Homo sapiens: one gene and its partner. Changing the gene in region 2 together with the main gene of any one other region gives a genetic interaction. Each region holds a gene or a part of one and is shown on either strand. Other genes may lie near its edges.

Evidence for each region. A genetic interaction does not mean that the proteins touch.
Region 1: changes in EGFR (region 2) and PRIM2 together harm fitness more than expected from each alone (negative genetic interaction), as found in Homo sapiens cells (one large-scale study listed by BioGRID).

What each region holds. Positions count from the first base shown.
Region 1 is NC_000006.12:57,642,507-57,645,027, reverse strand, and holds part of PRIM2 (DNA primase large subunit), read right to left. Parts: intron 1-2,521. UniProt on the Homo sapiens protein: Regulatory subunit of the DNA primase complex and component of the DNA polymerase alpha complex (also known as the alpha DNA polymerase-primase complex) which play an essential role in the initiation of DNA synthesis.
Region 2 is NC_000007.14:55,025,517-55,029,177, forward strand, and holds part of EGFR (epidermal growth factor receptor isoform a precursor), read left to right. Parts: intron 1-3,661. UniProt on the Homo sapiens protein: Receptor tyrosine kinase binding ligands of the EGF family and activating several signaling cascades to convert extracellular cues into appropriate cellular responses.

The sequences.
Region 1 (2,521 bases), on a different chromosome or scaffold from region 2:
GAAAATCTCTTCTTGTAAATTTCACTGTGACTGAATACAAACATGCCTGGTTCATAACTTATGTTATTTTTTCTCAAATACTATCATTAAACTTTAATTTTGAGTATCATTTCAAATTATGCACTCTAGTAATCTCTCCTTATATTCAGTTTCACTTTCCACAGTCTCAAATCCCTGCCTTCTCGCCTTCTGCAGTTGGAGTTGACAACAAAAATATCATTTTGCTTGAGTGAGTGACTGTTGGTTTCTTGGGTGGTATTTTCATTTATCAAGTTTTTGGAAACTGAGAAGTTATTCCATTTCTTTTGTTCATCTGTCTTGTATTAACTAATCCTTTTACGTCTCACTCTTCGTACTGAAGTGACTTGCACACTGTAGGTATCTAATAAATATTTGGTGAAGTGAACCCAGAAATAGTGTATACCAGTGATAATTTTGCATATTTAATTAAAGCCTTACTATATAAAAGACTGTGTTATAAACTATTCACTATTCAGCATACAGGAATACATTTGACTAACTCAAATTTCCAACCCAGTAAGTCATATACTTAAAAACCTCTACCAAGAATGGAGAACTGATGAGGGTCACAGATAAAGGCCTATTACACTCCACAGTAGAGAGAAATTTCGGCTGAGGAGATCAAGGAAGGCTTTGTAAGAGGAGTGCTATTTGAGTTGCGTCTGGAAAGATGGAGAGGGTGAAAAGCTGGGATGATGAGGGGAAAGGCAATATTTGCAGCAGGACCACATGAGCAAGGTAAAGAGGGAATGTCCTGGGAAAGCAAATATTAAATAGTTCACATAGCCTACTATGAAAGGCACATACAAGGAAACAATAAGGAATGAGGTTGGAAAGACAGGCAGGGGCCAGCCTGAGAGAGCCTTGAAAATCAGGGTAAGTGGTCAAGACCTAATTCTCTAGGCAACACAGAGTCACCAAAAACCCTTAAAAAGAGACGTGGTGTGATTAAAGCTATGTATAATCTTTTAGTAGATTAAAATGAATTGGCCAGGGAAAAAGGGGTTGCTGCCATGGTCTAGAATGAACCCTACTGGTGGACGGACCAGCAGACAGAAACATGAGTCTTTTCTGGTAATACTTATCTAAGCACCCTAGGAATCTCTGATTCTCTTTTGCTAGTTGTTAATACATGTTAGGCTAATTTTATAGTAATTCCAGTGTGTAACAGATGGATAGTATACAGACTGATTTTAAGAGTTATAGATCATTAAGAACAAATTTTTATCTTTGCTTCATTTTTTTAACTTAGCTGCTTGATTTCAAAATGTTTCTGAAATGTTTTATAATTTTTATTAACAATGGAATCATTTGTGAACTTTTTTATTACATTCAATTTTCACCCAATTCATTAAAAACTGGGAAATCCAATATAAATTTTGCATTTTGCAATGTGTTTCACAAAAAGTATGTTTATTGTCTAATACATTTTAATCAGAAGGCTTTACAGTTTGTAAAATAGTTTGTAAACAGAGAATCAGAGATTAGAAAGACCTTGGGGAATCCATTAAATTCAATCTCCTCCATGTACAGAGGCCTAAGGAGAATAGATGGTTTATTCAAGGTCATAGAATTAGTAACTGGTTTTGTCTGAATTAAAATTCAGGCCTTCTGACTAGATCATTAGTTGCTCTGAAATCTGTTTTAAGAGATTGTATGCAAAATCATACTGATAATGATATCTCCATTATAAATTTTATTTCTAGAGATAAACTTGGCTACAAAGATTAGAAAAACATAGTTGTACTATTTCATGCAAAAATAACCTAGTATCTTATGCTATAATAATATCTTGGCATTTTCTATACCTCGCTTCAAGTTGTCAGTTAGCAATACATTTATTAGACTTCAATGTGCACAAAATAGGGTAATCTTTTTAAAGTCTGATTTTCTCCATCTATGAAATGGAGATAACAGTGTTAGGTCATAGGGTTGCCATGGGAAAAGTAAATAAAAATGAATGTTAAAAAAAATTGTTCTATGAAATCTAAATAAAATGTTTTTAAAGAGTCAAGAAAAGCAAGTCACTTAAAAAAAAGGTGAAAGTCACAGAAGGAGAGGGAGAAAGATCCTATTGCTTTGCATATATCAAGTTCCTTTTCTACTTTAAGGAATCCAAACTGGAAATTGCTGATGCTGTATTATGGGTATAGTTTATAAAAGAAAGATAAAATCAAATTCCAAACACTAAACGATACTCAAAAGACCCTGCCCTAACTAATAAATGGCATTTAAATGACTTAACTTTAAGATATAATATTTAAGGGGCTGGGCGTGGTGGCTCACGCCTGTAATCCCAGCACTTTGGGAGGCCGAGACGGGCGGATCACGAGGTCAGGAGATTGAGACCATCCTGGCTAACACGGTGAAACCCCGTCTCTACTAAAAATACAAAAATTAGCCGGGCATGGTGGCGCGTGCCTGTAGTCCCAGCTACACGGGAGGCTGAGGCAGGAGAATGGCGTGAACCCGGGAGGCGGAGCTTGCAGTGAGTCGAGAT
Region 2 (3,661 bases):
CAATATCAATATTCAGCTTTTAGATGTGTTGAGCTTGAAGTGCTCAGATGGAGAAGTCCAGGAGGCAGTAGAATACGGTGGTCCAGAGCACAGGAGAGCAATGTGGCTTGAGTTGTCATTTGCTCACATATTTCCGTGTCAGTTACTTGTCTTAGATCACAGAACAAGTTCTCCTCTCACAGTTTCCTGGCTCCACCTGTCTCATGCTCACCGTCAGCATCGAAATTGAGCCACACCAGGGGTTCTGGATACCAGCTTCTCTCTAGGTGAGGCTGCTATAGTCAGCAGCTGATTAGTTGCAGTTATCAGCAACTGGTAATATAATATATTGTGCATATAAGTGTACCAGAAGTCATGTTTATATATTGCTGCAAATACTCGGAATGGGGATCTCTTGTTCCCTGCTTAAGACCACATCACATTACTTGGTTTTGTACGCTAGTGGCTGAACCAAAAAAAGTAGGAGATGATTTTTTTTCTTTTTTCTTAAAGCAGTAGCTTTTGAACCTTGACCATGCTTTCTAACCAGCTGAGGGGCTTTTGAAAAAGAGGGTGCCTTACTGTGCCCCAGACCAGGACAATCAGTATTTCTGGGGAATGGAGCCTGGCACACACACATTTCTTAAAGCTCCCTTGGCAATTCTGAGGAGTGGATTACATGTTGTATGTAGCTCGTAACGAAAGAAATCTTGTCTTTGCTCTCAGACCCCCATTTCTTACTCATCTCATGAGCTCCTTCGAGATCCAGAAACAGTTGCATATTTCATTAGTAAATCAGTTCCAGAGTCACATTTTATTTCACAAGTTAGTCCATTAAAAGTTTCCTGCAGTGAGGAAATAGCCAGAAAGAACACTCCACCCCTCCTCCTTTTTATAACTATAGGGTCTGGCTCGACAGAGCAGGAGCATCGCCATCTTGGACAAGCCCCTCATTCTAAAGTTCACCTTAATAAAAAACTGCCTAAATTCAAACTGCATCAGCCTAATGGCTAAGGTCAGCATGACCATAAACCACAAATAACATCTCCAACCGGAAACATTCGAAACTCCTCCTCGACCAGAGACATGCTAGTCCCGAGATAACCCCCCTCCAGCAGGGAAGATGCCAGTCTCGGGATAACCTCTCTCTGGCCGGAAAGATGCCTGCCCCAAGATAAACTTGCCTCCTCCCAGAGATATTCCAACCCTGCCATAAAACTTCTCCCTCAAACAGGAACATTCCAAAATTCTGATAATCTCCCTCACCCTAAAACCAATATATACTCCTAGTCTGTAAGAGAAAGCGCTCTTGACCAAAATTCACCAGGAGTGCCTCCCAGGTTTTAACTAAAGAAAACCTCTCTTTAACTGCCAAAAAAAAAAAGGGAAAAAAAAAAGCTTTCTGCAGTGGCTTTCAGCGGGCCCAGCATGGCAGCAGCACCTGAGAACCTGTTGGAGATGCACACTCTTGGACCCCACCCTGGCCTCTGAGTAAGACACTGGAAGGGCAGGCCCCGGTCTGTGCACACAAGTCCTCAGGGAGATTCTGACTGATGCATGCCAGATTTTGAGAACTGCTGATATACTCCAGGCACATCGCATGCTGGGATCTAGATACACCAAGGGAACAAAATAACTGCACTTGTCCTCTGAGGACCGACTTACCTTTTGGAAGGGCTGAGAAAGAGAGACACATACAAGATCACTCCCTGTAATGCAATGTTTTATAACAGATGTGATTTGGGATTTCAGTGGGAGCCCAAAAGAGGGACTGACTAATTCAGCCTCTGTGACAAGGGGAGTTTCTCAGAAACAGAATGCTTAGCTGGGCCTCCAGGCACAGGGACAGGAATGAGGAAATACTTGTAGGCCCTGTGCTCCTTCAGCAAAACCCTCAGTTTCTTGTTATTTTTATAAATGCAAACATCTTATTAAAGTAGATGCTAAGGCATTAGAATTTCCTGCTTTATTTTTCTAAATGACCATGAGGAAACCTGGAATGTCAAAGATAAAGTGCAACACATTCTGCATTTAAAAATTAAAATGATCCTTTTTAAAAGTAGCAACCAGATGTGAAAAATTGGACTGGAGTCCAGGTTATAGTTGATAGCTTTAACTTTCTCCCCAACAGCAACAGCACAATTTTCCCTAAAATGTGTTATGAATAAGTAAAATGACTACTTCACATCCTTTAACTCTTCCTACAGAAATCTAAGAGAGAAATGAAACAAAAGTTTGCACAGTTCTAGACACGATAAATACATGTGAAATCACACAACTCAGAAAATGTCCCTTAAATTAATTGAGCCATTGGTACTTGTGAATTAGAAGAGACATCTATGTTCTGATCCACTGTTGAAAGCTGTACAATGTTACCTATTTATTTGCAGACATCCTTTGGAAACAAATAGGTAGATTTGCAACAAATAAAGAGTGGAGTACAGCTGCTGACATTACCTTGTATATTCATGCCTTTATGTAAAAAAAAAAAAAAAAATATATATATATATATATATATATATATATATATACACACACACACACATATGGAGGTAAAGACCACTGCTTGCTTTGCAGTTGTTTTAAGAGCATTCATGAAGGATTTTATTTTATAAGCAGAAATGTGATATCTGACGATTTTACCACTACATGCTTGCAGGCCAGTGCACAGCAGATGACGTCATGATTGTTTTAGCAGTCCTATCGTTTTACTTATGATGTCATTACAACCCTTTGCTAAAATTTCTTTCCTTTACTCCAGGTTTTGGATAAAATTGATGCATTGCACATAGTCTCTCTGATAAGACAAACTGGCATTTGTATGTGAAAAACTGTGCATGTTTTAGTGTCTCTGCTGATACTCAAATTATCCATTATTTTAGTGCTGGAATAAAAACAAACCACTTAGTGAATTTGTGCAGGTCCTTAAGGACAGGCAAAGGTGTCCTGAGATTTTCTGATCATTGTATACCAAATTTTAGAAACTTTTTCAAAAACATTTTTTTAATTTCAAAAACCTGGTTTTGTTTATTTACCAGCAATCATTGAATACCTGAAAGCTTTCAGGAGATTTTATTACAATGGTTTCTATTCACTTACAAAATTATCTCCTAGTTCATTCTCATACACTGTAAGCCATTGTAAATGCTTCAAATTGTGCCGAACAAGATAAACTAGACAAACTATTTTAAGTTTGTTCTAGTGCTAACTTGCAAGATCTAATGGCTCCAACTAGATTTTTAAAATAAAGTATATTTTAATATATTATTAGAAAGTTAAGCAATTATCTGTTTATAGGTAACAAAAACCCTGGAACCCCAATGTCAGATGTCATCCACTTTTGATTAAGTCCAAACATATGACAGATAAACAAAAGATGGTTGGCTGGGCTCAGTGGCTCATGCCTGTAATCTCAGCACTTTCAGAGGCCGAGGCGGGCGGATCACAAGGTCAGGAGTTTGAGACTTGCCTGACCAACATGGTGAAACCCGCCTCTACTAAAAATACAAAAAAAACAGCTGGGTGCGGTGGCACGTGCCTGTAGTCCCAGCTACTCAGGAGGCTGAGGCAGGAGAATCACTTAAACCTGGAAGGCAGGGGTTGCAGTGAGCTGAGATCACACCACTACACTCCAGCCTAGGCGACAGAGCAAGACTCAGTCAAAAAACAAAAAAAAAGTGGT